Regions from separate parts of the Homo sapiens genome. Here region 1 is linked to region 2. Evidence: fine-mapped expression QTL. A gene starts in region 2. The other region holds a variant in brackets. All regions are shown on one strand. Distances are from middle to middle.

The links. PIP is the estimated chance that this variant, and not a neighbour inherited with it, causes the effect.
Region 1: its variant is fine-mapped to the expression of DRD2 in prefrontal cortex (ROSMAP, PIP 0.95).

Annotation. Positions count from the first base shown.
Region 1 is chr11:113,693,935-113,696,769 of GRCh38, forward strand. It overlaps TMPRSS5 (transmembrane serine protease 5), which reads right to left. Exons shown (of 13, transcript NM_030770.4): 7 at 1,466-1,509; 8 at 544-706. Among named protein-coding and RNA genes, the nearest start is that of TMPRSS5, 11 kb to the right of the region's middle. The variant C/A (reference allele first, on the strand shown) is at 1,551.
Region 2 is chr11:113,473,702-113,476,601 of GRCh38, forward strand. It overlaps DRD2 (dopamine receptor D2), which reads right to left and starts at 1,697. Exons shown (of 8, transcript NM_000795.4): 1 at 1,375-1,697. LOC105369501 (a long non-coding RNA gene) reads right to left here. Exons shown (of 6, transcript XR_948024.2): 6 at 1,828-2,152.

The DNA.
Region 1 (2,835 bases), 220 kb after region 2:
ACACAGGATACTGTGAATGTGAAAGTATTTTTAACACTTAAAAGCTAATGAGGCCAGGCACGGTGGCTCACGCCTGTTATCCCAGCACTTTGGGAGGCTGAGGCAGGCAGATCACCTGAGGTCAGGAGTTCGAGACCAGCCAGGCCAACATGGCGAAACCCCATCTCTACTAAAAATACAAAAAATTAGCTGAACATAGTGGTGCCCAGCTGAGGCACAAGAATCGCTTGAACCCAGGAGGTGAAGGTTGCAGTGAGCCAAGATTGCGCCACTGCACTCCAGCCTGGGCAACAAAGTGAGACTCTGTCTCAAAAAAAAAAAAAAAAAACTGATGAATATAAAGAACAAATCTTCATATTATTACTGTTATTTGTGCAGATCTGTTCTTGATACTGAATGAGAGAACTTCACAAACACCAGTCTTACCCTTTTGGAGCAAAAAGCTGGAGACAGTTGGACACGAACATTTGATACAGGACATACCAACAGCCGAACAGAAAGGGCAACTGAGGCTCTCTGTCCTCAGCAGCCACAGAGACTTGCCTGTGCATACAATGTGCAGCAGTCACCACCCAGCGTGGCGCTAGCACAGAGCCCCCACACGTGTGCCGGAAGCCCAGGGCCACGCTGGCCTGCCACGGCCAGCGCCCAGGAGCCACAGACTGCCCACCAACTATCCGGGAAGCCAGGGGCCTCGCTCCACACTCTGCCAACAGAGATGGGTGAGATAGAAAGAGAGAGAGAGGTGAGTGTCAGCATGGTCCTAACTCTCAGGAAGCGTGGCCCAGTGCTAAGCCCCAGAGAGCCAGTGTGGACAGCTCTCCTTTCTTATTCCTGGTCCTAAGTATGGGGGATGGGAAGGTAGAAGTGTTGATTTCACCCCTGCCTGCCCCATCCAGCTGTGGGCCCACTGAAAGCAGAAACTGTATCTGCACTAATGGAGCCCTAGTACCTAACAGAATGCCTGTCCTGTAGTAAAGGTCGAAGTGTTGGTGTGTGGAAGGATGTGTGAATGGACAGATGAAGAGACGGGTAGATGAACGGGAAGACCAATGAAAGGAACTCCACAGATTGCTTCCCGTTTGGTACCTGATTCACCACCTGCCCTTAGTTTCCTGAAGCTGCTAACAGGTCACTCAATAGCCAATAATAATTTCACCTCTGGGGCTTTCCAGAAGAAAGATGGAGTTGGTGTCAGAGGCCAAGGAAGAGAGTGGCAGGTAGTGAAGGAAGGAGATCATCAGCCCAGATCTGTGGCTGGTGAGGGACATGATGGAGGCTTAGAAAGGGTTCGGCTGGGGCAGAACAGCAACTGCAAGAAGGGGCCTGGCAGGCAGATGGGCAGGTGGGCAAGACCCCTACCCCAGGCCCAGCAGAGTCTCACCATAGGGCTCTTCCACACTTGAGGCAGGGGGAACACCCCTTCCTCTCACCGCCACCTCCCCTAGACCAAGATATGACTCACCAGAGCATCTGAGGGAAACAACTTGACCAGAAGTGCAGTTGTTCCTGCAAAACAGAGGTACCAACAAGAAGCTGGGCAGGGGCCG[C/A]CCTGCAGCCACACACATCCAAGGACGTGAAGAATGGGGGAGGCTGGTGGGGGTGGTGGACAGTTCTTAAGGCTGTCATGTAGCCACAGCCTGAAGAATACCACCATTTCCTTCCTGCCCCCACCCAAACACTCAGACCCCTCCTCATCAGTGGTCCCCAGGACAGGAGCACACCTCCTGCCTAGTCTCCCAGAGGGCAACAGAAGGACTTCATGGTCCTTGCAGATCAACTGGGACATAGTGTGTTTACAGATGAGAAAGCCACACTGTTCCCACTAAGTGTCCTGAATGAATACACACTCAATGAATGAATGAACGGATAGGTGAGTGTGTGGGTGACTAGGGTTCTTCACCCCATGCTCCTTCCTAGGTTTGCTGTATTCTCCACCCTGGTCCCTCTGCCTGGGCTTTGCATATTCATATTCTTGCTCTCCTCTTTCCCCTCTTCTCTCTTAGCTCTTAGTTCCTTTTTTGACCAAAACTCTCTTCTCTTTCTTTACTCACCTCTTGCCCCTAGCAGTCCAATGTCTAGACCCTCTTAGTTTCTCCTAGTTTCCCAAATCCATAGCCCTCCCGGCTCTCCTGGAGGAGTCAGCCCCACCCCTACTTCCATTTTCCCATTCAGGTATCCAAGACAAGAACCCTGTCAGAACCTTCCCAACTCCAGCCACATTCCTGAGCACAGGAGCTGGACAGGAGGGGCCTGAAGGAACAGTTCAAATTGGAAATGTGGTAATGGGGGTGCCCACCTTTCTATCCCAGGAGGCTGATAGGCAGATTGAGGAAGCCTAGGAAGGCACAAAGACCCTCTCCGCTTGTGCCCCAGTCATACCAAACCATCCCCAGGATCTGGGGAAGGGGCTGCTCCATTCCACAGCCCTCTTCTCTAGGAGACTCTCCAGACTACAAGCAACTCTTAGCCAGAGCAACTCAACCATCTCTTTCCTGAAATATCCGAATTATCCAAATAATGTGTGGCAGGATTCAGAGAGCACTTAGCTTGGAGACAGGAGCCTGGTTTCAAGGCTTGACTTAGCTGCTTATTACTTATGTGACCTTGGACAAGACTCTTTAACCTTATTAAGCCTCAGTTTCCTAACCTGTAAAATGGTGATGAGTACCATGTCAAATCTTGTGACAATAATAACCAACCCTACATTTCTTGTGAAGGGCAAATAGCAGATGTGAAGTGGTGACAGACAGGGCTCATGTGAACTGAGTTTGTAATTTCTAACTAGGAAATGTTCCTCTTTGTCCTCCTATCATAGGCCACCAGTGTCCTCCC
Region 2 (2,900 bases):
AGGGACTGAAACCCAGGAAAGCAGCTTGCTGATTTTCTTGAAACTGGTCATGCTGACCACAGTCTCTCTATCTGGCCACCCTCATCAAACAGCTGCATGAGGGAAAGACGATAAGCATGATTTCTTTTTCAAGTGGTCCTAATGCTGCAGGATGAATCAGAGATAAGCATGCATATTTGCATTTGAAGCAGGGTGGGAGTGGGGAGAATCGTTGAACATCTAGCTCCCTAAGGAGGAGCAAGGATTGGCCTAAAAGGTTTGTAGCCTGGTCAAAATACAGAAAGGCTTGGATCTGCAGAAGGATCTGGAGTGGGATCCACAAAGTGCCTTGCACCTCACTCCCTCACCCCCTCACCCAACCTCAAGAGCCACCGAAAAAAAAGTAGTGGGGTGTCAGGTGGGGCAACAGTGACTTGCTCAGACAGCTTCCTTGTGGCTGAGAGCAAGCGCCTGTCCCCACGGAGCTGCACTGCTGTGACTTGTGTCCATGGTGAAGCCTGTTATGTAGACGCACACGCACCCTCTTACCTCTGCTCTTCAAGAGGAAGCACTCAAGGGCTGCCCGCCTCAGACAGGGATAGGGAAGCGCTCTGTCTGGTGCTTAGAGGTGTCTCTTGTCTCCGCATACCACCCTAGAGGGGCTCTCGGTCCATCATAGAGCCGGGCCGAGAGCCGGGCGGTCACCCTCCGCTACTGCCGCCACCGTCGCCTGCACTGCCGGGTAGAAACGGGTCTGGCACCCAAGCCTCCCTCCCCGACTAGGTGTCAACCCAAGAGAAGGCGAAGGAGAACGAAAGTTCAGGACCAAGGACAGCGGCAACCGTGGGAGCGGGAGAATCCAGCCAGAATCTGCCTCTCCCCCATCCTTAGCTTCTGCCTTAGAAACTGAAAAGGGTCAGGTCGCACCAACACAGAGTTGCCAAAAACAGCCCTTCTTCCTCCGGAAGAAGTCGGAAACTCTGGCCGCGAGCCCCGGGTCTCGCGCTTGGGTGCTGGGGGAAGTGCCCTCCCGAGATTGTGGGGAGCGGCCTCCCTCCCGCCCTCCGATGCCGCGGCTCCGCCGTGCTGCCCTGGGCGCCCCGCGGGGAGGCTGCCCCAGCTGCGCCCGCTCGTGCTCGGGGAGAGGATTCCCTTCTAAGTGGCGAGGAGGCTACTGAGAAGGAGGGAGAGGGGATAGCAGCCGCGGGCTCCAGACGCCCTCTGCCCCCGCCCGACGGGGAGCCCATGCAGAGCCGGATCCCAGGCGGGCGCTCCCGAGCAGGCGGCCAGGAGTGGCCGCACAAACTTCTGGTCCTGGCCTCGCTCCCCTTGGAGGTCCCTCCTCCTCTCCCCGTGACACTGAGTCGCCCGCCGCTCCATCCGGCCGGTGCTTACCTTCAAGCCATAGGGCGCCCGGGGGCAGAGACGGCGCCGGCTGCTTGAGGCTTCCAGCTCCCGCCGCATCCACGCGCGGCCGCCCCTCCGGCAGCCGTCCGGGGCCGCCACTCTCCTCGGCCGGTCCCTGGCTCCCGGCCCCGCCGCGCCGTTCAGAGCCCCGGCGGGCAGCAGCTCGGCCGGCTCTGGCCCGCGGGGAGCAGTGGACGGGCCGCGGCGGGGCGGGGCGGGGCGGGGCCGGGCGCGGGGCGGGCGGGCAGGAGGGAGCGCGGGGACGGGGCGGAGGCGGCGCGGTGCGCGCGTGAGGCTGCCGGTTCGGCACTGAAGCTGGACAGCTCTGCGGCGCCCGAGCGCGGGGAGCGCGGGAGGGAGGTGCCCCGGTCCCCGCCCCTGAGACAGGCCCCGCCCCCGCCCCCCACCAAAGGAGCTGTACCTCCTCGGCGATCCCCGGCCTGAACGGGTAGGAGGGGTTGGGGGATTCCGCCATCCCTTGTTTTGAGGCGGGAACGCAACCCTCGACCGCCCACTGCGCTCCCACCCACACCCAGAGTAATAAGCTGTGATTGCAGGCTGGGTCCTCACCGTCTGCTCGCCAGTCTTCTCCTTTGAGGACTCAGAAGCCAAGGGTTGCGGGAGGCACCACCCATCCAGCAAGTCAGGCAAGGAGAGGAGGTGTTGGAAGAGGTCCGCATCCGTTTTCTGACTTCAGGTCTTGGAATCTATGTAGTCAGTTCTATTGCTGGACTCATCCAAAGGAAAAAGCCTGTTTGGAGTTGACCTGACATGGAAATGCAAAAGGAGGCCTCAGGGGTTCCAGCTCACCCTTGACTCCAAACTGAGGTGTGTGAGGCAGGGAGTGGGGAGAGGGAGAAAGAGATAGAGTGGTGAAGGGTGTTCCGCTGCTACCCTGCCCACTGTCATTTGGGCTGCAGAGGAACCTCGTTCTTCTCCCCTTTTCTTCCTCTCTCCTTTTCTTTCTTTTCTTTTCTTTTCTTTCTTTCTTTCTTTCTTTCTTTCTTTCTTTCTTTCTTTCTTTCTTTCTTTCTCTTTCTTTCTTTCCTTTCTTTCTTTCTTTCTTCCTTCCTTTCTTTTTCTTTCTTTCTCTTTCTTTTCTTTCTTCTGCAGCAATTAGTTACCAACTGTCCTCAGTTTGCCAGATTCTGTGTCAGATTCAGAAGTCACACACAGAAAGAAAACCAGGCCCCTGATCCCGCACCCTGGCAATCCAGAGAGGGGACCCCCAGGGAAATAACTGAGGCTTAAACAGGTGCTGTGAAGCACAAAAAAGCGAGACTTTACAGGAACCGGGCATTGAAGGAGCAACACCAGTTCCCAAGGGGAGAAGGTGGCACAACACTCCAGGGAGAGGGAAGAGCAGGGGCAGAGGACTGACTCTGCAGAGCAGGGAGTCGGCCCTGCATGGCTGGAATCCAGCCTCTCTGGGCCACAAGGATTAACTTCATCTCAGCATTTCCTCCAATGACACACACAATTATAGAAAGTGAGGGCTGGAAAGGACCTTAACA